Linked DNA regions of Homo sapiens: regions 2 and 3 are each linked to region 1. The links come from fine-mapping of genetic effects on gene expression. A gene starts in region 1. Each other region holds a variant in brackets. All regions are shown on one strand. Distances are between the middles of the regions. Region 1 holds the start of NUAK1 (NUAK family kinase 1). Region 2 overlaps NUAK1 (NUAK family kinase 1). Region 3 overlaps NUAK1 (NUAK family kinase 1).

What was found. PIP is the estimated chance that this variant, and not a neighbour inherited with it, causes the effect.
Region 2: its variant is fine-mapped to the expression of NUAK1 in blood mononuclear cells (TOPMed, PIP 0.90).
Region 3: its variant is fine-mapped to the expression of NUAK1 in whole blood (TOPMed, PIP above 0.99).

What each region holds. Positions count from the first base shown.
Region 1 is chr12:106,133,224-106,144,119 of GRCh38, reverse strand. It overlaps NUAK1 (NUAK family kinase 1), which reads left to right and starts at 5,166. Exons shown (of 7, transcript NM_014840.3): 1 at 5,166-5,706. The coding sequence starts at 5,467. RefSeq lists enhancers at 3,225-3,844, 6,236-6,737, 9,155-9,997, 9,998-10,841, 10,842-10,896.
Region 2 is chr12:106,062,225-106,073,120 of GRCh38, reverse strand. It overlaps NUAK1 (NUAK family kinase 1), which reads left to right. Exons shown (of 7, transcript NM_014840.3): 5 at 278-397; 6 at 2,215-2,347; 7 at 5,166-9,776. The coding sequence ends at 6,319. Among named protein-coding and RNA genes, the nearest start is that of NUAK1, 71 kb to the left of the region's middle. The variant C/G (reference allele first, on the strand shown) is at 5,042.
Region 3 is chr12:106,108,229-106,116,664 of GRCh38, reverse strand. All of the region lies in intron 1 of NUAK1 (NUAK family kinase 1), which reads left to right. Among named protein-coding and RNA genes, the nearest start is that of NUAK1, 27 kb to the left of the region's middle. RefSeq lists enhancers at 320-896, 897-1,473, 7,554-8,298, 8,299-8,436. The variant A/G (reference allele first, on the strand shown) is at 3,125.

The DNA of each region.
Region 1 (10,896 bases):
CATGAATTTTTGGTTGCAATTATCTTCCTTCCACTACAGTGAAGACTAAGCACTTATTTAGCTTGCTATTTAAAGTAAATTGTCCACCAGACCACATGTTTAAGTTAGAAACATCACAGTCTTAGGTAACTTTTCAAAACTTCATCTAGCAAAGTGTAAGAACAGTTATCAGCCAAAGCACAGGCATTAATTGACATGAGCTCGGGATAGGGGTTGGAGCAAAGCCTTAGAGTCGGAGGCTCGCGTTCAAATCCTGACTGCAGTTACTGTTTGATCACAGGCAACTTAGCCTCTTTGAGACTCAGATTTCTCAGTAGCAAAATGGGCAACATAACACCCACCTTGCAGTTTTACGATGATTAGCAGGGCGATATGCATATGTAGGGGTCCTAGGTAGTAAATAAATAATGTAGTAGGTAGTAAATAAATAATGACTGCTACTACTATGTTTTCTGAACAAATGTTTCTTTTTTTTCTTTTATTTTTAACTGACACATCATTGTACATATTTATGGGGCACAGTGTGATATTTCGATACATGCATACAACGTGTAATGATCAAATCAGGGTTATTCACATAGCAAACATATATCATTTTGTTGTGTTGGGAACATTCAAAATCTGCTCTTCTAGCTATCTGAATATATAAAATAAATTATTAATATAGACAATATATTGTATATAATTTATATACAATAAATTATAAACATACAATAAATAAATATATACAATCAATAATGAATATATACAATATAATATTCTACTGTATGTTCTTAAATACACAATATAAATTACTAATTTATTGTATCCTCCCAATTAAATTATTAATTATAGTCACCCTGCAGTGCTATCAAAGATGAGCACTTATTTGTCTTATCTAGTTGTAATTTTGTGCTCGCTAACCAACCTTTGGCTATCCCTGTCCCCTCCCCCAACCTCTAGTAACCACAATTCTACTCTCTACTTCAATGAGATTAACTTTTTTAGCTTCCACATATGAGTGAGAACATGTGGTATTTGTCTTGCTGTGCCTGGCTTATTTCACTCAACATAATGTCCTCCAAGCTCATCTATGCTGCCTGAATGACAGGATTCCTGAACAACGATTTCTTGAGAAAGCGAACATACCTTCTTTCTTTTAAATTGCTTTGAAAATAGAAAGTGCAGTGAAGGACCAGTAATGAGCCTTATGTAAATAAAAGATGTAGGATAGTGTGGATGTCACACTTTCAAGTGCCAATGTTACTACATCTGTCCTGTATCCAAGAACAAAACCAGAAATCAGAGTCTAACCAAGCAGTATGATTAAACTGCTTAAAATTGCCCCAGGCCAGGCACGGTGGCTCATTCCTGTAATCCCAGCACTTTGGGAGGCCTAGGCAGGTGGGTCACCTGTGGTCAGGAGTTTGAGACCAGCCTGACCGACATGGTGAAACCTCGTCTCTATTGAAAATACAAAAAAATTAGCTGGGCGTGGTGGCACATGCCTGTAATTCCAGGTACTTGGGAGGCTGAGGCAGGGGAATTGCTTGAACTAGGGAGGCGGAGGTTGCAGTGAGCCAAGATCGTGCCATTGCACTCCAGCCTGGGTGACAAGAGTGAAATTCCATCGCAAAAAAAAAAAGGCTCCAAATTCTAGTAGGAGCTATGGAAGATGAAAAGTATCGTATTAATATCCACGATTTATTGAGTGGATATAGTCTAGCCCTTAATCCTCATACCAACCCTGTGGGATGTGTTATTGGCGTAATTGCTAATACCACATACATTGTTACTGTCAGGCCTCTGTGCCCAAGCCAAGCCATCGCATCCCCTGTGACTTGCACGTATACGCCCAGATGGCCTGAAGTAACTGAAGAATCAGAAAAGAAGTGAAAATGCCCTGCCCTGCCTTAACTGATGACATTCCACCACAAAAGAAGTGAAAATGGCCGGCCCTTGCCTTAAGTGATGACATTACCTTGTGAAAGTCCTTTTCCTGGCTCTTCCTGGCTCATCCTGGCTCAAAAAGCTCCCCCACTGAGCACCTCACGACCCCCACCCCTGCCCGCCAGAGAACAACCCCCCTTTCTTTGACTGTAATTTTCCTTTACCTACCCAAATCTTATAAAACGGCCCCACCCCTATCTCCCTTTGCTGACTCTCTTTTTGGACTCAGCCCGCCTGCACCCAGGTGATTAAAAGCTTTATTGCTCACACAAAGCCTGTTTGGTGGTCTCTTCACACAGACGCACATGAAAGTTACCATCGCCACTTTGCAGATTAGAGAACTGAGGCATAGAGGGGGAAAACAATTATCCAAGATGATCATAAGAGGTGGAACAGGGATTTGAACCTAGTCACTCTGCCTCTAGATCTGAAGCTCTTAATCAAGGAGCCTGGGCTCTTGTTGGAGAAAATGCTTTATCGATGTGAAAACATTCACACACAATGCCTGATAGCATTGTGCTGAAGTGTGGTTCCAATTATAAACGTGGTAGGAATTCAGTCTGGAGAGGAACTCCCAGTGCCTGGGCATGACTGTGTGCTAGGCATTGTACTGGGTGTTTTTCATCCTTCCCATTTAAGGAGACGGAGCATGGCATATATGAAAGGAGAAGGGGGAGCTTTGGAACTGGACAGGTAGGGTTTAAATCCTGGTCCTGCCATTTACAAACTGTGTAACCTCTGGGAAATTACTTAACCTTTCTGATACGGTTTCTTCAATTGAAAATAGGGATTGTAAACAGCTACTTTACAGAGGAGGGTTTACTGTCATAAAACAGTACCAGCCTATGGTAGATGATGCTGTTGATTCAATAGATACTGATGAAGTCCCACATATCTGGGAGTAACACTATCAGCCAGAATAAGCCAGGTTATGCTGCTTTAACAAATCCCACTGACTTAACATAAATAAAGTTTAATATTTGCTGACACTACTTTTCCAATGCAGATTGGCTGGGATTTTCTGCCATCTTTACACAGAGACTCAGGCTGGCTTGGGGAGGCTCCAACTTTGTACCACCATGATTGTCAAGATAGGAAAAAGAAGACATGGGGATTTGCTCACTGGCTCCTAAAGGTTCCAAGTGAAAGCAACACAATCACTTCTGCTCTCATTCCATTGGCCTAAGCAAGTCCGATGGTCTCATCTAACTTCAAGAGGATGGGGTAGTGGATTTCTACCACATCGCAGGGGAGGGGAAGAAGTAGAAAATATTTTAAAATACTACTGTAGACACAATGTGTTTATCTCTACAATAGATCTGCTAAATCCATATCTTAAGAGAAAACCGAAGCTCTGAGAGGTTATGTCATTTGACCAAGGCCACACAGCCAATCCTCTGGGAAGCCAGGACTCAACCTGCATGCCACTCATCCTGACTGTGGGATCTATAGGCACAACGTCCACAAACTGTATAGAAGCAGAACAGTTTCAGGATGGGGGTGGGTGGCAGGGAGGCCCTGCAAATGCGGTGGACAGAATAGGAATTGAATAGGCATGATGCGCCTTTGTGTCTGTGTTCTGTCATTGCTCCTGGGGAAGGGAAGAAGGGGCAGGGAAGTTTGTGTGAAATATCAGTAGAAGGAAAGTTTGGACAGGTAAGAATATCACGCGTCAGAGTACAGCAGAGACACGTGTGGAGGATGAGGGCAGTGTTTCAGGCCATTACTCTGGCAGCAGTGAGGAGGCTCCCGGGGAGGGTTGGGGAGAGCGGGCTGTTGCTGGAGTCCGGGGTAAGGTGACCAGGGGTAGACAGGAATGAAGGCGGCGGGAATGTAGAGGAAGGGCTGCACCTGAGAGCTGCAGAGGAGGCCCCAGTGAGGTCCACTGGTGGAAAAGAACCGCCATGCGATCTGCAGAACACCAGACCTTCTTCAGCCTTCACTCTTCCCACCCTAGTCTGGTACATTGCACCACTTGTTAAAAAAAAAAATTTCCCTAAGACCTCTTTTTCTCTAGCCTTCTTCCTTATTTTTCATGGTCTCTTCTTAGAACGGCGGCAGCCACGCCGCGGTGGGAGGCCCTTCCTGCCTGACCCTTACCGTGCGGGGTACCGTTCCTGTCACCATCGCCAGGATCTGGCCCTTTCAGTGAAAGGAAATCTCCCAAGGCCTAAGGAGGCAAGAGGCCTGCAAATCGCCTCCTGCTCAGCAAACGGGTTGCTCAGCAGGCCCGGGGTCCTGGTCCACCCCAGGTCCCTGGTTTGCCCACCTCCGATGGCGGCCTTCGCTGGCAGGGTGGGCGCCTCTGGGGAGCCAGCTCCGTCCCGGCGCCTTTAGAGCCCCATCTCTTCCACGTCCCTGGCCTTCCTCCCCTTCCAGGCGGCTGTCCCCGCCGGGGTCCAGATGGTGTCGGAGGGCCGGCGGTTCGACGGCGGGCCCGGGGTTCAGCCTCCCGGCCTCCCTCCGTCCCTGACTCTCCTTTCTTCGGAGAGGGCGCGGGGGCCGGGGCCAAAGCGCCGCTCTTGGGGTTCTCCTGGACTCGGAGTTGCCCCAGGCGGGCGCAGCTCTGCCCCGCGGGGTGCCAGCCTCGGGCGGGCAAGGTCCGTGAGTCACCGCCTGTAACCGAACACCAGGCCTCCCTGCCCCCTCCCCCAGCTCCGGCCGCCAGGCTGCGGCGACACCTACAAGAAAATGAAGGGGCGCCCAGGCCCGCGGCGGCCCCGGCCGTATCGCGAGCAGGTCCCGGCGGCCCCCGGCTCGCGGCGCTCTTTCTTCCCCGGCCCCGGGGCTCGGCCAGCCGCAACCGCCGCCCCGGCGCCAGCAGGAATCCAGGCCGAGCGACCGGCCCCGGAGCCCGAGGCGGCGGAGGGCCCGCGGTAGCTGCGACTGGCGAGCCCGAGAGCGCCCGGGGAGGGGGCGCCCGGCTTGGAATTTCCCGGTCCCTTCCGGCCCAGCGAGGACAAAGCACTCCTGGCCGCCGCCGCCGCCGCCGCCGTGGCCTACGCCGCGCCGCACAAAGGGCGAGTCGCGACACGCTCCCATCCCCCTCCCAGCTCACGGCGGCCCCGGCCCCGGGTGGCTGCAGGGAGGTGGGGGAAGCCCTGGCTGCACCGCCCCTCGCTCCCCCTCCCCTGGGGCCGCGCGAGCGCCGCCCCCGCCCCGTCTGCGCGTCCTCCCGGGGAGGGGTTGGGGGGCGCGGCGCCCCACATAACACTCCCCCTCCTGCGCTGCGAGCCACCCTCTCCCCTCCCTCCTGCAAACACCACCGCCTCCCCTGCCACCGCCGCCACCTCGCCCGACGCTCCACAGCTCGCCGCGGCCGGGGGGCGGTGCGCGGACCGTGCGCGCCGCGGGCGCCAGATGTGCAGTCCCCGCCGCCGCCAGTGACCGAGCCGCAGTCCGAGCGGTATCGGGCCGCCTCCCTGATGCTGCGGGGGCGACCTTGAGCGTACAGCGGCTTCCCTCGGTGGGGACCCCGACATCCCAGCGCTGTGCCCGGTCTTGCCCTCTGTAGCCCGGCTCGCCCCGCGCTTGGACATGGAAGGGGCCGCCGCGCCTGTGGCGGGGGACCGCCCCGACTTGGGGCTGGGGGCGCCGGGCTCTCCCCGAGAGGCGGTGGCGGGGGCGACTGCAGCCCTGGAGCCCAGGAAGCCGCACGGGGTGAAGCGGCATCACCACAAGCACAACTTGAAGCACCGCTACGAGCTGCAGGAGACCCTGGGCAAAGGCACCTACGGCAAAGTCAAGCGGGCCACCGAGAGGTTTTCTGGCCGAGTGGTGAGTGGGGCAATCCTGGAGGGTGCGGGGGGCGCTGGGTGGACGCGGCCGGGGACTGAGGGCGTGCGAGGCGGGGGTCTGTGCGCCCTGGGGCTCTCTTGACAGAGAGGGGGCTCATTGGGAAGCCCCGAGACAGACTCCTCACTCTTTCTCCAGCACCCCGTGACTCAGGCGTGTCTCTGTCCTGAAACACTTGTTACATCCTGTCTGCACATATTTTATTTTATTTTTTGGTTTGTTTTTAAAAATTTAATCCTAGCAGCAAAGGAATGTTTTAGATTTGCAAACACTTTGCAGCGTTGGGACGGCCGGGGTCTCTCTCCCTCGCAGGCACTCATTTAGACCATGCCCCGAAACGTCTTATTTCCACAACTCTCCAAAGAACCACATTCCCAGCTAGGAGCTAGCCCCTCAAGTCCGGTGTTTTGTAGGTGTCCCTACCCCCTTCCACCCATCTGCCCGCAGCTCCTTGCTCTGCATCCTCCCACTCAGACTCTGCATCGCCCTGATACTGCTGTGACTGCAAGGGAGGGCGACTCTTGCCTGTTTTTGAGACAAGGTTAGGGAGCAAAAATAAAGACTACTGCAAGCCTGAGGATTCTAACAGTTTGCATCATGGCTTTGGGAGGACCGAAATGTCCAGGGCATGGGTAGCTACAGAGATAGCTGTGCTTAGTTGCAGCAGGCTCAGTTGTGTTTCAGCTCCTGGTTGCAGGGCTACCAAACCGCTGAAGGGGTCTGGCCCCGCTGCTCTTGTGACAGCTGACACCCTGCCAGGGTCCTGGCACCATTTGCACAGCTCCAAGGAGTGCTTTGAGTGCCTTGGGGTCTGTCTGCCTTGTCCCAGCCTTGGTTTGTTGTTATTTTCACTTCTGCAGAACAGGCCCTTGAAATCCACACTGCTTGTGGCTAGAGAGTTGGGTTCAAAGTGACTGACTGTTGCAGAAAGATTTTGTGTGGTGTGTGGCAGAAAATTAACATGGTTCTTTGATTTGAAGCAGATCAGATGTATTCTAATCGATTTAGGGCCAAAGTCAGAAACTGATTATGGGACTCCTTGTGTGCACTTTTGGGGGTGTTTTGGAGGCTCAGGTTTGCTTATAAACAACAAATGACTGCAGGGAAAAAGGAAAATGAGCTGTCAAATAAAATAGCAGCTTAGTATTGACATGTTTCTTTTGCATTTCGGCAGGAACAGTTCTGTGAAAAAAACATGGGGGTGCCAGTCAGCAAAGTTCAGTCCCCAAATTCTCAAATATCTGGATACCCGGATAACGCCCTCCCAACCCATTTCTCAGATTTGATGTTTGGGTCTATATAACTTCGTCCCATAACGTTATTTTAAAAAAAAATCTGTTATCAATTAATTGGAAATTTGAGATGGCGTACATTTCTTTTTAAAGCTGGCTCTGTAATAAATTCTACAGCAAGCAAGTAGTTGAGAATTCACTCTGGGCAGGTGCCATTTTCGTAGGATGAAATTGTTAAAGGGGAGGGTTGTAAGGGTGGCCTCTGATGAAGGCAATTTCAGGTTTGTGGAAGAAGAGGCTGGGAAACGTGCACTTCATTCATGCTTTTCTTCTGAGGTGATATTCCCCAGGCTGGATGTTGAATAAGCAAAAACTAAGCTTAGATCCCTGCTCATGTTGTCTTAATAGCTGCTGAAGAATCGCACTGGGAAGGTGGGAAGCAGAATAATGAAAAACAGACGCAGTTCGAGCTGCAGGTTGAGAATGTGAGGCTATGAGGGGTTGTTGAAGTGGTAAGGGTGTGTCTAGGGTCTGTGAAGGGACCCCAAAGTCTAAATGCTGGGGCACTACCTCAGACCTTTCTAACGAACGAACCCTTGTCTTATGGCAGACGCCTTTCTGAGCGTCAGTGGGACTTCCTGTCAGGCGTTCTTGAGCTGTCTGATCCACAGACTAGGTTAGAGTGAAAGGGATTTGCATCAGTAGGCAGGAGTCCGCCTTTCTCTTTTGGGGGATGTCTTTCTCTGTATTTGCAGAAACTGAACATTCCGTCAGGATTTAGTCAAGCGGCCACGAGGGGGCGCCCTGAGAACGAGAGAGGCTTCTTTACCAGCCGCAAATCTGAAGTCCCGCTGTGTTATTGTTCAGCCCTAGTTCATTTTCCCATTGTGCTATTAATTTCAGCTAAATCTCTTGTTTTACCCCAAAATTATGTAAAGATTTTAAATCTGGCAGCAGACCCACGCCCAGAAACTGACAGTCTCTAAAATGCTTCGTTTATTCATGGGGCTGCTTTCTCCTTGATAGCTGAGCTTACAGAATGTTAGCCAGATCCCTGGGTAAAAACCTTGCATAAAACAGATGGGAAAACTGAGGTTTGGGGAAGGAAAGTCCTCCTTGGCCCCCCGTCCTCCCCCTGCTGAGCACACTGCTCACAGATGGTGTTAAGAACTTTAGTGAGAAACAGGAATTGTCAAGTGGAAAATTTCCTGTGACTGGCTGAACAGAAAATAACACCAAACAAACAAAAAATTGGTCAACGAGTTGTTCTTGCCCATACAGTGCCTGGTGACTCAGAACCTGTTAAGAGCAGTAAGACATTTTCATCTAAAATATGAACTTGGAGTTTTCTTCTGGTACCAGCGATGTGCTAAACATTCACAACATGCTTTGAAGGTGCAGTTGAGGAGAACTGAAAGGGCACTATCTTAATTTAGCCTTTTGATCTTTGGGTAGAATTTTGAAGTGATGTTTTATTTTCATTTGCACCAGTGCCTTTTACAGCATCTCTCAAGAGGAGCAGTGGTTCTAACGTGTTTTACTAATGTGAGTGGCCCAAGACAGGTGCCGAGTATGGGGTTGTATGAAATGCTGTGAAATCAACATCCCTGTTGAAAGCAGGGGTTCTTCTCAGAGAGGAGAGAAGTTTCTAAAAAATGAGGATGTGATGGTTTTTAATTGCATACCTGGAAGGACCTTCTGAATAAAACAAAACACAACACAGCATCATTTTCTATGTGCCGCGAAAGGCAGTTCTGAAGAGAAGTGCAGAATGAGATGCTTGGAGTCAGCTGGTGCGACCCTGTGTGTCGTCCAGGCACTCTCCTGCAGTCTTGCAGCCTCTGCTAAAGCATGTCCGTGAGACCAGGACTCAGAGTGGCTTGTTCCAGAGATGAACAAGCTCAAAAATGAGGCACTCTTGCAGAAAGGCAAAGAGCCCTGGCTTACATTCAAATCCTTGATCTATCCCCTACTAGCTTTGTGTCTTTTGGCAAGCTATGTGACTTTTTGAAACCTCAGCTTCTTCATCGGTAAAATGAGCTACTAAGAGTACCAACTTCATAGACTTGTGAGAACTGAATACAGTGATCTATATAAAACCTCAAAAGGGGACATTAATCAATTTAGTTCCTCCTTTTAGCAGATTTTTTTTCTCATCTCATTTTAGGATTTCATTAGATTTTAAGACCATCAGAGAGACAATGCATTGTATCATGCAGAGAGAGATAGAAGAAATAATCAACTTTTCAGAGTAATAAAATAAATACCAAATTAATTAGGGAGGTGTGTCCATAGGAAGATGAGATAATTAGCCAGATTCAGATAGGATCTGAACACATTTCTCAAGTCTTGAATTTGGGCCTTGTTTATTGCACAACTTTGGTTTTGATACAGTTTTGGGCAGGCCTACTGGGTGAGCCTCTGTGTCATAATTCGGCATGCATTTTCTTTGAGCTAAGCTCCCTGGACCTACAGGCCACACAAAGCGTTGCCAAAAATCCCAAAACCAAAGCCACACAATTTTATGTCCTGTGATCACCTCGATGTCAAGGGGCCAAGTTCAACTTCCTCACTGTACCAGGTTATCTCTAGTGAGCAGTAGGTGGTGTGGTGTGAGCTGGAGGCAGGGTCCCTGGGGGGGAGTCTGGGATGGGAGTGGCAGGACTGGTGGGCAATGTGTGCCCCTCCCCCACAGTCTGCCCTGGTGCCCCTGGCCACTAGAGCATTAGCTTGGGTGATGGGGCATCCTCACCTAGCAAGCCAAGTGTTTTGACCAAAAATGGGTGTTTTAAGCACCCAAAGCTATTCATAGCCTCCTGCTGGAAAACTGCAAATCAGGGAGGCAAATTAGCAAACTGGCCTGCCAAGCCAGGAGGTGTGTTGACGTCACATGCACGGTGGCAGAAGTGCCATGTTGCAGCTAAGGCCCAAATACAGTTTTAGAGTGTAAGGGACCATGGCAAACATGTGGTTCAAACTTGTCATCTTCGAGGTGGGACCAGTAAGGCGCAGAAGTGTTAAGTGACTTTGTTGAGGTTGCACAGGTCTTGAATGACGGAGCTGGATCTTAGAAACCCGATTCTTGGTTTGGTATTTTTCCATCACTCATTTAATAAATCTTTACTAGAGAAAGACATGGGCCTCACTCTTAAAGAACTTATAATCTAGTAGCAAAGGTGAAATGTACTTGCAAACTAATTCTGTTCAGTTCGATGAAGATTTATTGCCATCTGCCATGTGCTACTCACCATGTTAAATGCTGAGACATAGAAATGAGTAAGACCCAGGGAGCTTCCAGCCTGGTGAAAGAGAAGGCAGAAGTAGTTACTAGGCATGAGTAACTCTTCCATAGAGGATTGTTTCAGGTGATTTTCAAGTTGGACAACAGTTCATTGAAGCTTAGCTCATGAAAGTGAGTTTGATCCTGGACAGAATCATATTTCTACTGCTACCATTATTTACTACCAGCTGATATTTTTGAGAGCTTGTGGTGCATCCCACTGTGCTAAGTGCTTTAGAGACATTTTCCCTCACTTAACTTTCACAGCAACCCTGTGAGGTGTAAAATAGTGAGACCCATTTTACAGATGGGGAAAATGACACATAGGGAGGTTAGGTAACTTGCCAAGGGTCAGACAGCTGGATGGTGTTTGTTTGTTTGGATGGAGTTTGTTTGGAAACCCAATGCTGCTAGAGGAATTGAGAACCTTCCTTAATGTTGCACAGCTGGTGACCTCTGGATTTGGGTGTGGTTCTTTGCTAATGGTGCCAGAAGAGCAGCCATGGGGTGATCGCCCACCCTTCCGGAAGGGTATCTAGAGGAGGGGCCAGGGTATACTGTGGGATTAGAAAGTGTTCTCCAGCTAATGGGAGGACAAGTGCTGTTGAAAATGACCCTTGATTTGGGTTTCAGAGGATTGGAATGTGGGGCATTCCAAGG
Region 2 (10,896 bases), 71 kb after region 1:
TTTAAAGAGTAATTTCTAAGTAAGTTGCAGAGCTTGTAGTCTGCAGATTTGGTAGAACTTGTGATGGATGCCAAGGACTGCAGCTAGGAAACACTGACCTGCTTGGGCTGAGTGGTCCTTTATGAAGACTCAGGGCTGGAGAGAAAATGGCGATCCAGCCAGCAGACCCACCCAGGTGCCCTTCATCCACTCTGTGTGCTGTGTGGTGTGAACTGATCCAACACAGACATAATCTGGAATGCTAACAAGTCTCCCTGGGTCTTGCTTCTCTTTGTAGATTGCTGACTTTGGGCTTTCCAACCTGTACCAGAAGGATAAGTTCTTACAAACGTTTTGTGGGAGTCCACTCTATGCATCTCCTGAGATTGTCAATGGGAGACCTTACCGAGGGCCAGAGGTGAGCAGCTTTCCCAATGTGTATGGGGCAGGGGAGGGGAGGGAGAAGAGGGAGGAAGGGCAAAAACTGGATTCGAGAAATGCTTAAAAAAACAGAGCCTAAAAAAGCCAGCAAGGAAAACGTTTCCTTATACGATTATAAAAGCAGTTAATGTATACTCCTGGGAGGAAATTTGGGAAACCCAGAAAAGCCTAAAGGAGAAAATAAAGGTACCTGCCATCCCCCTAGAAAAGATAATCACTTAAAACTCTAGTGACTTTTAAACTTTTCCCAATGTAGATCTCTGCATTTCAAAAATAATTGAGATCAAGTTAATAAAAGGCAAGATATACATATGTATGTGACACACGTATGTATATCTTGCCCTTTACTATGAAAACTATCTTGTGGCAATTTCCAAATTCATTATTAAAAACATGATTTTAATGACATTTTATCAATGAATATACCAAAATTTATTTAGTAATGTCTAGATGTGAACATTTAGTTTTTTCCCTATTATATCAAAACAGACAAAACAAACAAACAAAAAATTGCCTCACTCTGGGGTAAATATCTTTTTTGTATATATTTTTGGCAGCATGCATATCTGACTAAGGAAATACATTTTAATGACATCTTCTAATTCATGAGAAATACATTTCCCTACATGCTAGCGCTTTCAAGGGCCACTGTAAGATATGGGTATATGGAAATTTTATTTTGAAAATGAGTGAGTTGTGAGTGATGATTCTCTTTTTGAAAGATGGTTCTCTTTTCAGAGTTCATCCACTCAGTATCCTTTAAATAGCAGCTGCTCAGTGTGTTGAAATGTTTTCTTTCAAATATTTATGTGTTTGAGAGTGTTTGGGGGCAGGGCTGAAGGGTAAAGAGAAGGATGCCAAGACCATCTATTAACTGCAATGAAGAGAAAGTCTTTCTAAAATAAGAATGTGAGGGAGGAGCATAGAACTCAATTTACAAACTTGTAGAAACTCGACACGAAATTTCTCATAGATAATGAATATTTTGGTCTTCGATGACCTGTTTTTGAGGTTCCAGGCTAGCAGTCTGTGATCTGGTCAGCAAACTCCTTTATTTGGCCACCTTAGTTTTTATTAAAAAAATTGAACAAACATGTAATAATTGGGAGATTTCATGTAAAAGTTTGGTTTCTGACTTCTCTTGTAAAACCAAAGAATCGAGCAGTGCTGGGCCCATGTTACTACATGGCAGCAATTAGCTAAGGAGAGGCTGTCTGCCTAAGACGGGTGAATGTACTGTACAGTTTGTCTCCATCCCCAACACTCTATGTCATAACCCCAATTCTTTCTTGCTTTGTGTATATCTGTTAAGATTTCAGTTTGTAATTCCTGATTCATTTGAAGAAAGTGCAGGAAGGAATTGATTCCTGGATTAGGAATGAAGAGCCCCGCATCCCAGTTTTACCTCCGTCACTGGGGCAGGGCCTCTGGAGAAACCATTTAGGTTCTTCGTGCCTCAGTATTCTCATCTTTTAAATGGGGCTGAAAATAGTCCTGGCTCTAACTGCTTCACAAAATTGTAGTGAGGATTAAAGAAGATAATCTGTTTAAGAAAGTTCTTTACTAGTTGGGACCACTGGCCTCTGTTCAGAATGGAAAGGTCAGGCTCTGTAGCAGGTCCCAGCTGCATTGCTGTCAGGTGTCAGGCTGCACTAGGAACCTATCTTCCAGGTGCTAAATTCAGTTCCTGGGGCTGCTGGGGGTGGCTGCTCACAGGCTATGATGCTAATGGTTTGGAAGGCATCTTGGGATCTGTTTCCCAGCTCTCCTATATGTGCTGTCTCTCTGCTCCAGGTGGACAGCTGGGCCCTGGGTGTGTTGCTTTACACTCTTGTTTATGGAACAATGCCCTTCGATGGTTTCGATCACAAAAACCTCATTCGGCAAATCAGCAGCGGAGAGTACCGGGAGCCAACACAGCCCTCAGGTGCGTGCCCTGTGGAGGGAGGGTCAGAGGTGGAGGGGAGAGAGATCTGCTTACCCAACTCTTATTTTCTGCTTTTGTTTTAGTATGTCTGTCTGGAGTCACCTGGTTTTCCTCTTTCTTCTTCCCAGAAGTGTCATCCTTGGCAAAACTGGCTTATTAGGCTGCTTTCCCCAAACCTTCCCAAAGGAAATTTTCAGAGCACACCTTCTAGGAGTCCTGTTTGCTTGCTTTGTGGATCTGGACAAGTCACTTAATCTCTTTGGATTCAGATTCTCCACCATAAATAAAAACGTTGGAAAAGATATTAGATGAGGTCTCTCCCAGTCTGAGTAGACATAGAAACCACTCACCTGAGAATGTAAATACTGTGAGGGTGGCCACTGCTCTGTCTCTCACTACTGTGCCACTGGCATGGGGCATGGCTCATGGGTTCTGTCTCATTATTGATTTCTGTGTAACAACTCTACCCCATCTGCCCCTACAAAACAAACTCAGTGGCTTACACAACCATGAAATCATCTCTTTCACCCCTGTGGGTTGGGAAGTGCTCTTATGGCCTTCCTCTCCTACAGTTGTAAGCAGATGGCAGTTGGGGCTGCTGCTGGGGCTGAATGGTGGACCTTCCTCAGTGCTCTCTGAGGTGCCACCCCACAGTGGCAGCTTGGGGTTCTAAGAAGGAGGAATAAAAAGTTGCCGAGCTTTCTTTCTTTTTTTAAAATTTTTCTTGAGAGAGTGTCTCGCTCTGTTGCCCAGGCTGGAGTGCCAGTGCCATGTCCATGCTTGTACCCAGATTGTGTCACATCTGCTGTGTTCTATTGGTCAAGACAACCACGGTCATGAGCTTCATCTCTTGATGGGGAATATCATGCCTGTATAGAGAGTGTGTACAGCTGGCCATCATTGGTCATTTTTGTTAACAAATGAAGTTAACATTGGCACTTCATTTATATACATACTATACACACGCATATATATATATGTATATCTGTATACCTACACATACACAGTTGATTCTCATTCATAGTAGTTATGTTCTACAAAGTTGCTACAAACACTGAATTTGTGAATATTGAACCATTGCTCTTAGGGGAAATAGAGGGTTAGGTTCCTGAGAGCCTCTGCTCACAATATTTTTGTTAACTGATTGATATATAACCTTGTTTTATGTGTGTCTCTGTTTAAAGACACCTTATTTAATCTATATTATTAATTCATTAACATCAAACTCAACAGCCAACAGCACTGTAACTCATGCCTAAACAAAACTGATCTAAGACACTTATCTTCTCCATAAGGCACATCACAGCCTTCTTGAGCTTAGGAACACTGAACAGTGCTTCAGCACTGTTTTAGGGAGGCATTTAAAAAGAGGAATCACCAATAAAAATTCCAAAAAATGTGAGAAATACAGCACTAAATAGACTGAGAAAAGGACAATTTGTATAATAGTATGAGAACTGAAATAAGAAGGCAGAGTGTTGCCTTGTTTGACCTCCGCTGTGAATACATATGTGTGTTGGGGTGACTCAAACTTTTTGCTGCTCTGTGCATATGCAAAAATGACTGCAAAAGAGCTGCGAATATTGATTTTGAGGTTACCAATAAATTTTAGCAAGTAGGCAAATTTGCAAATACAGACTCTATGGATAATCAGGCTAGACGGTTGTATGTGTATATATAGATATGCATTATCTCTCTCTCTATATATAATTTTTTCAACAAGCCAGCCTGTTCTTTTTGGAAAAATTCAGAGTGACCTCTAAAGTGGTCTTCTTTGCCTCACCAGCTAACTGATGCCAATGCGGTTCCTGGCACATTGTAGGCGTTCAAGAAATACTTATTGAATGACTGAGGATGATCATCTTGGTACTTTTCAGGGGTGTTTCTTGCCCCAGTCCCTATTACCAGGCCTTTGCCAGCTTCTCATTCGCTTACATAAGCAGCTGAGGGGAGGTGGCAGCTTCCAAGAATATAATTCACCCCAATTGGGGGAACACAGTTTGAACCTAAAAGTCAGTTTATAAGCTGTGAGAGTCAGTTGGTTCCTGTGGCCTTCTCAGCATCCCTTTAGGGGTTTTCCCTAATTCTCTGGCAGCAGAAATTTGCAGGTAGAATTTCCAGACAGGCTGTGAATGGGAAGCAGATATAGATCACTTCTCTGATCTGATAGCTCAGTAGAAGATGGCTTATGTCAGAGAGGGAAAGAAGGCAAGCTCACTGAGTGTTGGTCTCAGAACCTGGCCTGGACCTTGGGGCGAGGCCAGCTTTGGAGATGGCCACGCTTACTGCCCAGGTGTTCCAGGTAAGTGCCTCTGAGCCACACTCCATGTTCTGTCTCTGGCATGCTTTCCCAGTGACTGCAGGTGCTGTGTGTTTATACAAGCCCACCTTTGGAGGAATAAAGAAAGCCATGGTTATCTACACCTGTTTTTCCTCTGGTAAAATGATATTCGCCAAAGGAATGGTGGGGCACCTCTCAGGGTCAAGTCTGGATTCTTTCTTGGTTACCTGACCTTCCACATTTTCTAAAGATTCAAGATGATGAAAAGCTTAGTAGTTCTATGACATTTTCTCACTTACAGGGAAAACATGCCATGATGTGATGGCACCCTGGCCTGTGGTTCCAAGTCTTGATTATGCTTTTGATGGATGATCTGAAAGGCTGGGGCTTCCTGCTCCATAATGTGGCTGGAC[C/G]AGGTCTCCAGATGGATTTGTCCTAGAGGGAGTGTGTGTCTTTCGTCACTCCTGGAGGGTCCCACTATCACAAAGCCAGAAGCTCCCACATAATGCCCGATTCTTTTTGTCCCTTGTCCCTTAGATGCTCGAGGACTCATACGGTGGATGCTGATGGTGAACCCCGATCGCCGGGCCACTATTGAGGACATTGCCAACCACTGGTGGGTGAACTGGGGCTATAAGAGCAGCGTGTGTGACTGTGATGCCCTCCATGACTCTGAGTCCCCACTCCTGGCTCGGATCATTGACTGGCACCACCGTTCCACAGGGCTGCAGGCTGACACCGAAGCCAAAATGAAGGGCCTGGCCAAACCCACGACCTCTGAGGTCATGCTAGAGCGGCAGCGGTCGCTGAAGAAATCCAAGAAAGAGAATGACTTTGCTCAGTCTGGTCAGGATGCAGTGCCTGAAAGCCCATCCAAGTTGAGTTCTAAGAGGCCCAAGGGGATCCTGAAGAAGCGAAGCAACAGCGAGCATCGCTCTCACAGCACTGGCTTCATTGAAGGTGTAGTTGGTCCTGCCTTACCCTCTACTTTCAAGATGGAGCAGGACTTGTGCAGGACTGGCGTGCTCCTCCCAAGCTCACCAGAGGCAGAGGTGCCGGGAAAACTCAGCCCCAAGCAGTCGGCCACGATGCCCAAGAAAGGCATCTTGAAAAAGACCCAGCAGAGAGAATCAGGTTACTACTCTTCCCCAGAGCGCAGTGAGTCTTCGGAGCTGTTGGACAGTAATGATGTGATGGGCAGCAGCATCCCCTCCCCCAGCCCCCCGGACCCAGCCAGGGTAACCTCCCACAGCCTCTCCTGCCGGAGGAAGGGCATCTTGAAACACAGCAGCAAATACTCAGCGGGCACCATGGACCCAGCCCTGGTCAGCCCTGAAATGCCCACACTGGAATCCCTGTCAGAGCCTGGTGTCCCTGCCGAGGGCCTCTCCCGGAGCTACAGCCGCCCTTCCAGTGTCATCAGCGATGACAGCGTGCTGTCCAGCGACTCTTTTGACTTGCTGGATTTGCAGGAGAATCGCCCTGCCCGCCAGCGCATCCGCAGCTGCGTCTCTGCAGAAAACTTCCTCCAGATCCAGGACTTTGAGGGGCTCCAGAACCGGCCCCGGCCCCAGTACCTGAAGCGGTACCGGAACCGGCTGGCAGACAGCAGCTTCTCCCTCCTCACAGACATGGATGATGTGACTCAGGTCTACAAGCAAGCGCTGGAGATCTGCAGCAAGCTCAACTAGCATTCCAGGGCGCCCAGGGGCGGGCGGGGGTACGAGGGAGGAAGGGGAGCAAGACTTGGGCTCACAGGCTGGTTACCTCTTTGCTGGCTGTGACAACAGACTGAAAAAGGATTGGCACTGTCTCACTTGGCCAAGTTTGCAGCCTTGAGCCAACACCTAAAAGGGAGAGGTGGGCTCTTCTGCCAGTTCTGTCAATTGTCAGTCAGAATTTGGGCCCTGTTTGGCATTTGCTTTATGGCACCTCCTAGAGGACCAGCTGTCCAGGGGAGGTGGTATTGACCGGCACTCAGTGGGTGGAGAGGAAGCATATGTGGAAGGAGCATTTCCTTAGAAGTCATCCAGATGCTTCTGGAGGAGGGGCAGGAGACACTTGGGCTGTTTGCCTTGGGTGAGCCCAAAGAACTTGCCCCTTTTCTCCTTGTATTAGCAAGCTAGGTCTGGCTGCGTGGAGCTGGCAAGTAGATTTCAGCAACTTGAGCTTGAGTTGACGATCAATTAATAGTGGCTGCCAGTTGTGCTGGCGTAAGTGGCCCACATCATGGGGAAGGAGTGCTGTGATTGACTAGTAATGGCTACCACGGGAAAGGGAAGGGGAAGCAGTAGCACTAATGCTATGTAGTTGTCATCTTTGATCTGGCTAGGCCCTGGGAATCGGGTTTAGTCATCCTGTGGGATCTATGTTAACTCTTTCATGCCACTGGTGAGGCATTTGTTAATTTGCTACTCAACTTTGAGGAAAGACAGGGCCTTGGTCAGAGAGAGAATGCTCTGAACTCTGCTAAGGACATAGAGTCAGCCCATGGTGATTTAGCTCCTTGCTGTTCACCTCCTCTTTCCTGATGTCTGCCTTGCTCTACAGCACAACCTCTTGAGGGTGGACAGGGAGAAAGATGATGGTGTCAGAGGTCAAAACTATTATATATGACAGGGCACAAGATGGTCTGTGATCTTTGCACAGATGAATGGAAGTTGATGCACACCAACAAGAGGCAACTTGTCACTTTCTTTCTCAATATTAACTGGAATGCTGCCTCTTGGGTTCTCACCTGCATGGATGCTTTGAGTTGGACGTGATACTGTCCATATTCTCCAGAGGATTACCTGGCTGAACCATTGGCTCTGTTCACCAGTGACAGATGGTTTCCCCATCCACTGAGTGTAGCATCCTCAGAGGTAGGCAAGTTTGCTTCTAGGGAGTTAGCATGTAGATGGGATATTGGGATGAGGAAAGGAAAATCAGGTAGATGGTGCTTTTTTTCCCCCAAATCTAAGTATTCTATGTCATGGTTTTAAACTTTGCCATGAACTCCTGGGCTTTGGGGGAAGAGAAAGTTCCATTCATTTAAATGAATAAGGTGTTGAAAGAGTGCAGGGGGTTGGGAGGAAGCATGTAAGAGAGGGAACATTTCCTTAGATGTTACCCAGATGGTTCTGGGGGAGACAGAAAAGAGGTGCGGCAGGACTCTTATCTTAAAAAGTAAACAAAACAAAACAAAACAAAACAAAAAACTAGATATGTAATTTCTAAACACCCAGATCACAATGACAAGATGCCACTCCAACCATGGGACACCTTCATGATACTAGGTTTGTACTTCCTGGTCTCTGGGATGACTTCAGATTCTGCTGGCCAAGGCAAATTGAACTCAGTTCAAGATGGCCACCACTGGTAGACGTGTAGATAGAAAAGAGGACTGGTCTTGGGAACATCTTTGGAAAAACCAACAAACAATAGTTCTAGGGAGATGAGAAAAAAATTCACCTTACAGTGCTAAGAAAGTGCATTAGAATGGAATTGCCCTTTCCTTAAGGAGACAGTTTGGGCTCTCCCCTTGCCACCGGCTCTGGTGTTTTGGCTTATGCGTTCCTTCAGGTTGAGCTGAGCAGTGTGTTATGGGAAGCTGCTCAATTTCCTTTCATTCAATTCCACCTCCTTCCTGAACTCTAATAGAGGTTAAAAGGGAAAAAAAAAATTCTGTAGATAGCAAATTGTGTGTGTGGGGGGGGGTGGGGGTGTGGGTGCATGGAGGACAACCTGCAACTCTGAGCTCCCTACTTCCTGCCTCATTTCATGCAGTCTTTTCTGAACAGCCTATGCTGCTGCCCTGCTGGCCCCTTGTGCACGGCAGCTGGCCGTGTCCGTAGCTGTCAGTATGACTTAGATCTAGCTCCTACCTACTGGTTGATGTGTTTTTTCCTTTTGCCAAGTGATTGAGTCTGTTTAGTAGTTTCCATCATTCTAGTCTTTAAGTAAAAATGACACTATTGAGGAAAGTCAGTCTACTCCCTTCTTCCTCCCCCCAAACACGTGTTCTCTTTTGTCAGGAAACTCAGCCAGTGGACTGTGGCAGAGAAAGTCCTCCACTCAGAGGCAGAGACTGAGTTAAGTCATAGGTGGCCTTAGGCATCTGCATTGTTTGCAGGGGTTAAGTTTTCCTTCCAGTGAGGGCTGGAGGGATGAATTAGCTGGTACCTGAAGCCCCGCTTAGCTCTGACACTCTGCCAACATCCTCTGATTCTAGGTGTGGTGTTGACTGTCCTTTCAAGGAAAAACTTGCAATAGAGGGAAAAGCCATTAAAGCAGCTCCCTGCTTCATCATTAAGTCCTGTCATCCCTACCAGCCAATCCCAGTCAAAGAAGTTATGCTTTATTCACTTCTGTGGAATTACAAGTGAGAGACACTTTTAGGACCTGATGGACAAAGCAGGAGATTCACTGTCAGCTTTCCTGGTCCTCTCCTTACTTCTGTGGGCCTTGCACCGTCTTAGTTTACACATCTGCCAAAGGGGTAGAATTACACTTCTTTTTACAGGTAAATGTCAAGGCACAATCAGTTTTCAGGAAGTGCTTCAAGACCCCAGGTGAAATGAAAATGCTAAGTACCCTCTGAATGGCCATGCCTGTTACCAGGTGCTGCTTCTTCAGATGATGGGGAGCACTTTTCAGGGTGAAATTCAGGCGAGTTTTGCCCAGGCCTGCTGTCTTGAGTACAAATGTGAATGATCGACTGACTGCTTGTTGCCAAACTGGAAATGTTCTGTAGGGATTTACTGGCATGGTATCATTCCTAGAAGAAAAAAAGAGAGAAACTTGACTGCACATTAAAAAAAAAAAAAAATCCACATTGTGACTTTTATTTAATTTCTATTTTTTTTGGTAATAAAAAGTTGACTTTTTTATTTGAATTTGTCTTTTTTATTTATTGGTCTGAAAGGCATTTCAAAGGTATTATAATAATATATTGGTGTAATTTAATTGGTGCAACATGCTTTATGGCTCCTGTCAAAATTGGTTTTCACTCATTTGATTGGTTTGAGCCCAGAACAGCCTACAGGGGAAAAACAAGCTGGATAACCACCCAAAGTGTTTGTATTTTCGTTGGAAACTGATTTTTGTTTCATTTTGGTTTTTGTTTCTGTTTTTATTTTTAAATTAAATAAATTGCAATGAACTGAACCAGAGACCTTGCTTCTTTATTTGGTGGTTTTTTCTTAGTCAAGTAAGTGACAGAATCAATATAAGTAACAGAGACCTACCCAAATGAGCTTAAGCACAAAAGGGAATTTATTCGAAGTTCTTAGAAGAGGAAATGCATCTTGCAGTGCCGCTGGAATTAAGAATTGGAGTGGTGGATTGAAGAGGACAGTATACCCTCTTTTCTGCTTCTCTTTGCATATCAGCTTTCTTCTCCTTTTATAGCCTGGCTTTCTTCTCTCTGATTGTGGAACCCACCTTGGCTTATCCCGTAGCTTCCAAATTTACATGTTCTCAGTCTTGGTTTCCAAAAGAGACTACTCACCAGGTTCCTTAGTTCTGAACTGGAGACGTCATCAAAGGCTAACACTCAGCCACGCTCTTTCTCCACATTTCAGTTTCCTGTGCCTGCCCTTTCCCTAGGCACTCCCCTCTATCCCAAGGGCAGGAAGTTGCTAATCTGATTGGGATTAATCAGAGTCCAAGATCAGTGGGTCACGATTTCCTAATGGGGAAGGCCACTCACGGCTCTGCCTAGAATGACAGTATCTTGAGTCCCATTTTGCCACTGTTTCTTGTGTAAATAGACCCTCCAGAAAGCTCTTGGAAGGAGAGGTGCATCATAGAGCAAGATTGAAGAGTTCCTGGATCCTGGCCATAATATCAGGTGACATCAAACCCTACCCTAGTATCAAACATTAGAGAGTGATGCTGTGCACAGAATAGTAGTGTTTTAGGATCCATGCCAGAAAAGTCTGACTTTCCAAAGAAATTACAACTTGCACCCCTTTTCTAGTTTACTGGAAGAACATCTGATGTAGCATTGTCACATTTAGCAAATAAAACTACAGAATGCCTAGTTACATTTGAACTTCACATATACTATGAATAATTTTTCAATATAAGTGTGTTCCAGACAATATTTGGGTCATGCTTATACTAAAAAAAAAAAAAAAAGAAATTCAAATTTAACTGAGCATACTGTATACTATCTGGCAACCTAACCTGATAGGGCTTAGTTGTCCAAATTGACCAGGTGCTGGGTGTGGTAGGAGGTTGGGGAATGGATGCTTATAATTGTGGCTTGCCAAATTAGAACACG
Region 3 (8,436 bases), 26 kb after region 1:
GTCAGTGTGCTTCAGAGGTTAAGAGTATGGTCTTTCAGCGTATGGAGACCCAGACCTCCTATTTATTTATGTGCCTTAGGGCACGTTACTTAACTTCCCTCAGACTCAGTTTATATTCATTGAGAAGGCAGAAATAATAATGTTTTTGTAAGAATTTAATGAGTGAGAGGTTGAGAGGCTTAACAGAAAGGTACTGAGGGCCTGGCACATAGTGAGGGCTTGATAACTGGTAATTATTATGACTGCTAGCTTTTATTGTGAATCACCCCCAACCCCTCTGGAGTGGGCACTGTTATTGTCTCCATTTGGAAGATGAGGAAGTTCAGGCTCAGTGATTTTGGGACAAGAAGGGATTCCACGTTTGAAAGGTGAGCAAGTAAAAGAAGGCTCAGCGGCAGATGGCTGGGGTTTAGGTTGGCTGGAATGATCAGATGTCCCACTATGGTTTTCTGTTTGTCAAGGGTCCTTCTTAATACTTGGGCTCCATTTTAGCAACAGCTTTTTTGTATATACTGTACATTAGGCACATGCTTAGTACTGGAGATGCCGTGGTGCATAAAACAGAAATGATTTTCGTGCAAATGAAGCTTATGAGCAATGGTGAGCGAGGTTATAAAAGGGGACCCATATCTGCAAAGGGGTCATTGCAGGGGATGGGCCATGTCTGCAGCAGATGGATGCAGAGGAGTTGGTCAACCGAAAATGTTAATGGCGAGGACAGGATGTGGAGGATCCTGGCAGAGAAAATGGCAGGTGCCATGTCTAGGGGCATGAGCACACTCCCCAACCCAGGGCACAACTAGGGTCTCCAAGATGACCACAGACCCCTGCCCCAGCCTCCTTGAGGGTAGGAACTGAGAGTTGAGTACTGGGCGAGGCTCATCCCCATGATGGGACGGCAGGAAATGCTCGTCTGGGGCCGAGCACACTCCTCAGCTCAGCCTGCGGTTTCTTGGGGCTGTGCATTTGCAATGAGCAAGAGCATCCCAGCAGGCAGGCTTGTGGAGCACTAATGAGGGAGATGACAAGCCTCCCGATGGATCTTGCAACGGGCTGGGGAGGAGGGACCAGCCTTTTAACTCTAGGAATAATGGACAATGAGAGCTTCTCTTGGAAGGAAAAAGATGCTTGTGAGGAGATAATGAGAGAGGCCTCGGGGGCTCCTGAGTGCTCTCCAGAGGCTTTGGGGGACGGACTGCAGCCTGCACGGTTGCTCCCGCCCTATCTGATAGGTCTTGTACATTGCTATAAATCAGTTTTCTAAACAGAAGAGATTCTGTCTGGATAAAAATAACTTCTGCAGAATCTTCTCTTTCACTTATTTATAAAACCATTCATGATTAGAATATAAAATAAGATAGAAAGTCATGCCTCTTTTTAGCTTGTTGTATTTTACCATATTAAGAAATGAAGAAAAGTTTTTTTGGTTCTGCTCACCTGGATCAGCTAAACTCAACTGACTAATTTCCTTTCCCTTTGGAAAACTAATTTTGCTTCTTAGGTTTTTGTGTTCCTAGCTCATTGTCCCCAAGGTTAGTGATTCAGTAGTGGCCTGAAGTTATCATTTAATAGCAGTGTTTGCAATGAATTAAGAAATAATAGGATGAAAACTTCCCAAGTATGCGTATTCATGGGTGATATTAAATCAGTCTTCAGAAATTGGAGGAAAGTTTGGATAGAACTGAACTGAAAACAGCGTCTCTGGCATAGCTATGTGAGGACAGACATTAGATGGAGGTGAAATACACCAAGCTGCAGCACAAGTCATGATTTGTCAGCACCCTGAAGAGTATCTGCCACTCCCATCTCGGTTTATTAATGATGCAACAGTTCTGGGGACTTGGCTGTGACTGGAGCCAGCCTCCCATGTAAATGTTGAATTTTTTTTGTGGCAGTTTCAGCCCTGCTGCTCACTGTGGCTTAGTATTTGATTAGGAAGGACCCCTTGCTCAGAGTGTTTATCCCTCCTGGAGTGGGAATCAGGACTCTCTTGTTGCAATTCCAGTGCTGCTGATAACTTCGTGAACTTGGGGCCTGTATGTACTTTAACCTCCCTGGGACTCAGTTTCCCCATCTGTAACATGAGGAGATTGGCATAGAGCATTCTAAGTCCTTACAGCTCTAACATCTACTCATGATAACAGTCCTCATTTTGGCTTCTGCCGTAGGTACTATTTGCCTTCTCTGCCTTCCATCATATACACAATCTGCCATGTTGCCACAGCAACCTTGTGAGGTTGGTACCATCATCATCCTCATTTGCAGGTGAGGAAACTGAGCCGGTGGCGTGATTATCCGAGTCCCTCTCCTTATAGGAGTCGCCTTGGCTGGGTTGCTGTGACTGATGACAAGCCCAAGGTGCAGATGCTGGATTTCTTAGCAGTACTGGCTCGGGTTCTTCTGGGTTTGGAGGTTGATAAATAAAAGTTGCACAACCTTAAGCTTATCCAAGCCTTGTTATAAACAGTGTCAGAGTGATCAGATGCTACCAGTTGAGGCTGTCCAAGTTGTAAGCAACCTCAGCCCTCTGGCCCAGCCCTTTCTCTCCCTTCCCAGGGCAATTGTAACCTGGAAGAAAAACAGTTGCACTTTAGAATTCTGATTTGGTGTTGCATTTGGCTTCAGAGACGTGAACGTCCAAAAATAAACAGCTGCTTGGCAACTCCAGTCTCAGCTAAATGGCCTGGCATTTTCAGTCTTTCTTTGAATCTGATATTGTCTGTGTTAGCGTCTCTTGTGTTACCAGAGGCTTTTTCGTGCTCCGGGTTATGTGTAGACTGTGAAGTAACCCATCCACACCCACATTCCCTGGCATCACTTCATCCACAGGCCCTCCTTGGGCTGGGACTAGGGAGATACCCATTGGAAGCAAACTTTCCATTTACCAGGGGTAAATTAATTCAAGTCACTGAGCCCCCTCAAGGAAGCCTGTGTTTAATTCCTCTGTGTATAAATGGAAGGTTCATTAATTTTCATCAGTCATCTAGTATGTAATATAACTGCTTCCTGTTTAAGCTACAGAACAATAGGTGTCGTCAGGGCCACATTTACCCTGCTTTAAGGTGACTGCTCTCAAACCTCAGAGTGCAGCAGAATCACCTGGGAGGCTGTAAAGAATGCTGAT[A/G]CCAGGTCTGCCCCCTACCCTGAACACTGCCACCTTCATTCACTAGCTCTGGGGTGGGCCCAGGAATCTGCATTTTAGCAATCAGTTTCCCCTTTCCCCCTAACCAGGGGATCGGAGGCAGGTGATCTGCTCACCACCCTTGGACAGATAGTGCTCTAGAGTCTCTGACTGTCCTTTTCAGGCGGGTTTGTGGCTCACTTTTGGCATGCCCACTCAGCACGAACTTTCCGGTGGCCTTTTTGCTATTTCTTTGGTTCTTGCCTGGTCAGCCACGGTTTGTATCTTATGTTTACAAACCTCAACAGGGAGTGTGAATCTGCCCACGGTTTCTTAGTCATTAATTCCACTTCCCTTGTGGCATCACCACTTGCAATGACATTCTTAGCTCAGTCTTTGAAGGGGAGAGGGGTGGGGGTGAGTCTTAGAGACCAAGGAATGACTGTCCCTGTAGATAAAAATGTCCCAGCCCTGAGGTCCTCCTGAGCTGGCCCAGGCCCAGTCAAGCACGAATCTGCTTTGTTTTTTATGTTCTGAAAATAGAATGCATTTTTTATGGCAGGAGAGAAATCAATATCATCACAGGAATCATCATCTCTTTTATGTAGAATTTTGAGAAATAGAGGTTTGAGAACCAAGTTACAGAGGATTAAATTTTCAGAACCTCTTACAACATTAAAGGGCTGATGAGGGCCAGTGAGGGGATGCCACTCTTTGAAGGAAAAGCTCCTAGCTACACATACCATGCTCCCTGGCTTCAGTGCCTCGCCTCAGAGCCTGTTGATACAACTCTTGGCTTCCAATCCATTTCTTTCTGAAATACATTCATGTAGGACATGAACCAACAGGCTAAAGAGGAAGGGAAGAAGAGGCCCATGGGCCCCCAGGCAGAGCTGGCTTGGTTCCCATGGGGCCCGTTGCATCACAGCAACTTGCTGGGGTGTTGTTCTGAGTTGGCCAGGCCCCTCCATAAAGAGCCCGGGGTCATTTAATTAATTAGGGGCTTTGTTTGCAAGATGGGTGGCATCACCGTGGTGACTGTCCTCGGCCAGAGGCTTTTTGAGTGAAAGCCACATGGTGATCCTGGGAGCTTTGGACCGGTGTGGCCTCGGTGGGGCTGTGCCTTGCCCCACACTCTGTGCATCTCCCAGGCAAGAGCAGGAGCACTTTACAGCCTCCAGCCGGGCTTGGCTGCCTGCTCCTGCTGCAGGCGGCCTCTGGGCTCCTAGGTAAGGAGAGATCCCCTGAGCTGCCTCTGACTTCGTGCCCTGCAGCTCCCGTGGAACGTGCCTGGGTATGAGATCACACCTTGTGAATGGCAGGGAAGTTGCCAGCTCGTGTTGCTGGGATTAGGATGCAAACTTGTTCTCACTAAGTGATGCTAATGCCATATTTATGACTGTGTTTCTTCCCTGCTGCTCAGCCCTCCAGTCCCTCCTTTTGGGACCTCACATATGACCCTGTAAAACTTCATCTGCTTGGAGGGGGGTCCATCTCACTAGGCTTTAGGGACCCTTTCGGATCCTACAGGAGATTCTGTTCCCTGTGATGTTTTCTATTCATCCCAACTTTATTCATAGCCTTAAAAATCAGCAGCCTCTGGGCTCGAATTCTAGCTCCACTTTTTTTTTTTTTTTTTTTACAGGCTATGTAACTTTGGGAAATATTTATCTTTCCTGGCCTCAATGTTCTCATCTGTAAAATAGGATTGTAGGTAGGCTTAAATGAGATAAGGTCCACTGGCACATGATTAACACCTAAGAAATATTAATTATTGCTATTATTAAGAATATTGCCACTGATTTAAAAATGTTGAGGGTCAAAGACGAAGCACTAAGACCTGGCTACTCCAAGTGTGGTCCCTGGGGCTGGCATCACCTGGGACCTTGCTGGAAATGCAGAATCCCAGGCTGGATACCCAGACCTATGGATTCAGAATCTGCACTTTTTCAAGATGCATGGGTGACTCCTATTTGAGAGGCACTTCAAGAATACTCCTTGAAGTCCAGCTTATATCAATGAATGAGCATGCAGGGAGATGGTTGCAAAAGGAGGAGGGCAGGGATTCTCTTGGTTAGAGCCTCGACGACATACAACCTGCCCAGACTCTCTGCCACGCCCCCAAGGCTGGTCCTACACTACACAGGCGTCCTCTCCATAAGACACCAGGACACCCTGGGGCTGGCCGGATATTAATTTTAACCTGCTTTTGCCACTGTGCAAATGTGGGGAGGGGAGGATATGTGTGGGGGTGGAGAGGAGCCAAGAGACCTATGATATGATTTGCTGTGGGCTCATTACCTCTTAAGTGTGGTTTATAATCACTGCCATTCAGTGAATACTGTGTGCTGGGGCCTTTACTTACCTAGTTTCCACTCCTCACAACAACCCCAAGAAACAGGATTTTGTAACCCCATTTTACAGGTGAGGAAACCGAGACCTGGGAAGTTTGGGCTTGCCTGAGGTCACCCAGCCGGTGACAGTCTGAGCATTTACTCTTCTACTCTGCATCCCCCAGCCCTTCCTAGGTCACCAAGCTCTGAACACCCACAGCAGCCAATGTGGGAGAGGATGCCCAGCAGGCCACAGAGCAGGTGGTTTTTGGTGATTATTCAAAAAAGGAAAAACCTCCAACCCTCAAGAGGAGGCTGTGCCTGTTGCATGTAACAGAATTGGCTGGGCTGAGTTTGCCTCTGAAACAGGCAGGCACTGCAGGGCGGGATTCACAGGTTCTCCACCAAACCTGCTGCTGCAGAAGGTTTAAACATTAAACCATAAGGTGGCCTTATTTAAAAGCAGACCATTTTATAAGGCACATGGTACTGTCTAGACTTGGGAACATTTATGAATGTGGCTGTACTGTGAGTCGGGCTCAAACACCTGAGTTCCCTCCTCCTCTCAGGCTCTCTGACTTGTACAGGAACAAATGGGATTTTTAGGGGTGGAGGGTGTGTGATTTCAGACATTTGGTAATCTCTTCCTGCTGGGCCCCTTCCTTACCTCTGTGTTTCTTTGTAGATGTGAGAATTGAGGAAAACTGGAGAGGAGGTTTCCTCCGCAATGCCGGGCATGTCTGTGCATTTCTTTGGTAGCCCTGGCCATGAGGGTAATTATGTAATTACTGGTGTGAGTTTTGCTTATTGCCCGTACCCTCCCCACCCCACCTCCCACCTTGAGGGCTGGAGCAGTCGCGCTGGCTCCCTTTTGTGTAGCCGGTACTTGGTAGGTTTTCAAAAAGAACAAGTGGATGAACAGTCAAATTTCATAAAGGCTGAAGTGTGAATATCTTGAGGCTGAGTTTTGATTTTAAGTAGGAACATATTTGTGCCCTGTTCAGCTGAATGGTGAAAGGAGACAGTGTGGGAGCGGGTGGAGAAATGCTCCTGGGATTGCTTTTTGGGTTCAAGATGTTCATCCTCCTGTCTGGTTTGGACTCAGGAGCCCTGCTGATAATGGTGTGTAACCAGCTGATCTGATCTTCCTGATTTCAGATGAGGTTGCAATGTAAAGACCCAGGATGGAGATGCTCTTGTCCTTTATGTACTATGAAAACATGTCCCTAAGACCTCCACTCACTGTCTCTTGAGGAGCCAGGAGGAATTCAAGTTTGCTCTGAAAAAGAAAGGAAGAAGGGAAGGTTCTACTTACAGAACACTCACTCTGGGTTAAAAAAGACTGACACTTATTTAGCAGTTACCCCCTGGCCCAGGTGTATTCTTGAGCACCTGATGTGTAATCCTTACCAGGACCTATGAGGCAGGTACTATTATTTCTCTACTAGATGAATGAGAAAACTGGTGCACAGAGAGGTTATGTAACCTGCCCAGGGTCACACAGCTAGAGGGTGATTTTAGCCTGGACTTAAAGCCATGTTCCTAAGCATTATGCAATACTGTCTGTGCACTGGCTCAGTGTATCCTTCAACTTCCTGAAGCAGATACTTTTGCAGGAGCTGCGTTAGAGATTTTCTTTTTTTTTTTTTTTTTTTCCTTAACAACCCTTAAACAATATGACAATCATTCTTAGCTCCCTGGGTCCTACAAAAACAGGCTGAATATGTGGCTAATAAAGTAGTTGGTGTGAAATGCTCCAGAGAAGATAAAATGGGAAGGGTATAGAGAGAGGGAGGTGGCCATAAGTGTGGCCTTATCAGCTAGAGGGATCAGGAAGGATCTCCCTGAGAGGGTGGTGTGAAGCTGAGGCTTAAATGAGAAGGGTGCAAAGATCCCTGGCATGTAAAGCATTCAGCACGGTGTCTGCTCCATATATTAAGTGGCTAATGAATACTGGCCATTACTATTAGTAGTAGTAGTGCTTTTTTGTTTTGTCATTAACCGGCTGTCTGAACCTTGGATGGGTCCGCCACCACTCTGGGAGTAGAGCTGAATGTCTTCCCTCCAGCCTTGGCAGGTGCACAGATGAGAGTGATTTCTAGCATTTGTCTCCTCCTGACTTCCTGTCACCCCTTTGAAACAGGGGAGCAGAATGCACCCTCTTTTACATTTTCAGTGGAAAAATCATTGTAGGAAAAGGGAAAATTTTTGTGGAGAGACAGCCACTATGCTTATTAACATTTATGGAGCCCTTTTAGTTTCCTCAGTGCTGAGCAAGGCTTGATGAGAATGTGGGCACTTTCCTTTTCACACCCAGCTGAAAGCATCCCCTGGCGATTGCACCATGGGACCCTCCGCCTCGCTGGACTGTTAGGGGGAATCAGCAAGTGGGCCTATTTTTTTACCCTTTAGAATGTTGCTACCCTCCTCTGACCCTGCATGGTGAAGAATTTATGCCTATTGTAACTTGACAATAGAGCCTCCTTGAGGCCAAGTTCAGCTTGCTGCATAATCAAAGGGGTGGTTTCTACCCTCGGCCATCTTTAGTTTATGGAGGAATGTAGGAGTTGTTCCAGCAGCCACCCACACCCTCCACAGCCTGTGTGTGTTCACTGTCTGCTTCCTCCCAGAACAAGGTCCCAGGATTACAGCCCTTCCTCAGATAAAATAAAGCCATCCAGTCATATCTTTACATTTGACGTAAGTGAAGGGAAGTTTTTCTTGCCCTATACTGAATGGGGCTGTGGTGAGGACTTGGGGTAGCTCTGAGTCTGGCTCTCTGCTGAAAAGGGGCCTTTAAGCTGGAAGGCTCATTCATCTCCATGCAGCCTCCTTCTATCCAGCCATGGGTCCACCCAGGGTCGAAGGGAGGTGGAGCCTGCCCCTGGGTTTACAGCAGGGCCCCCTGTGTTTTATATTTGTTTAGCTATTCCTCTATTGCCTGTGTAGATAGATGTTAAAGGAATTCTTAATCTTCTTACT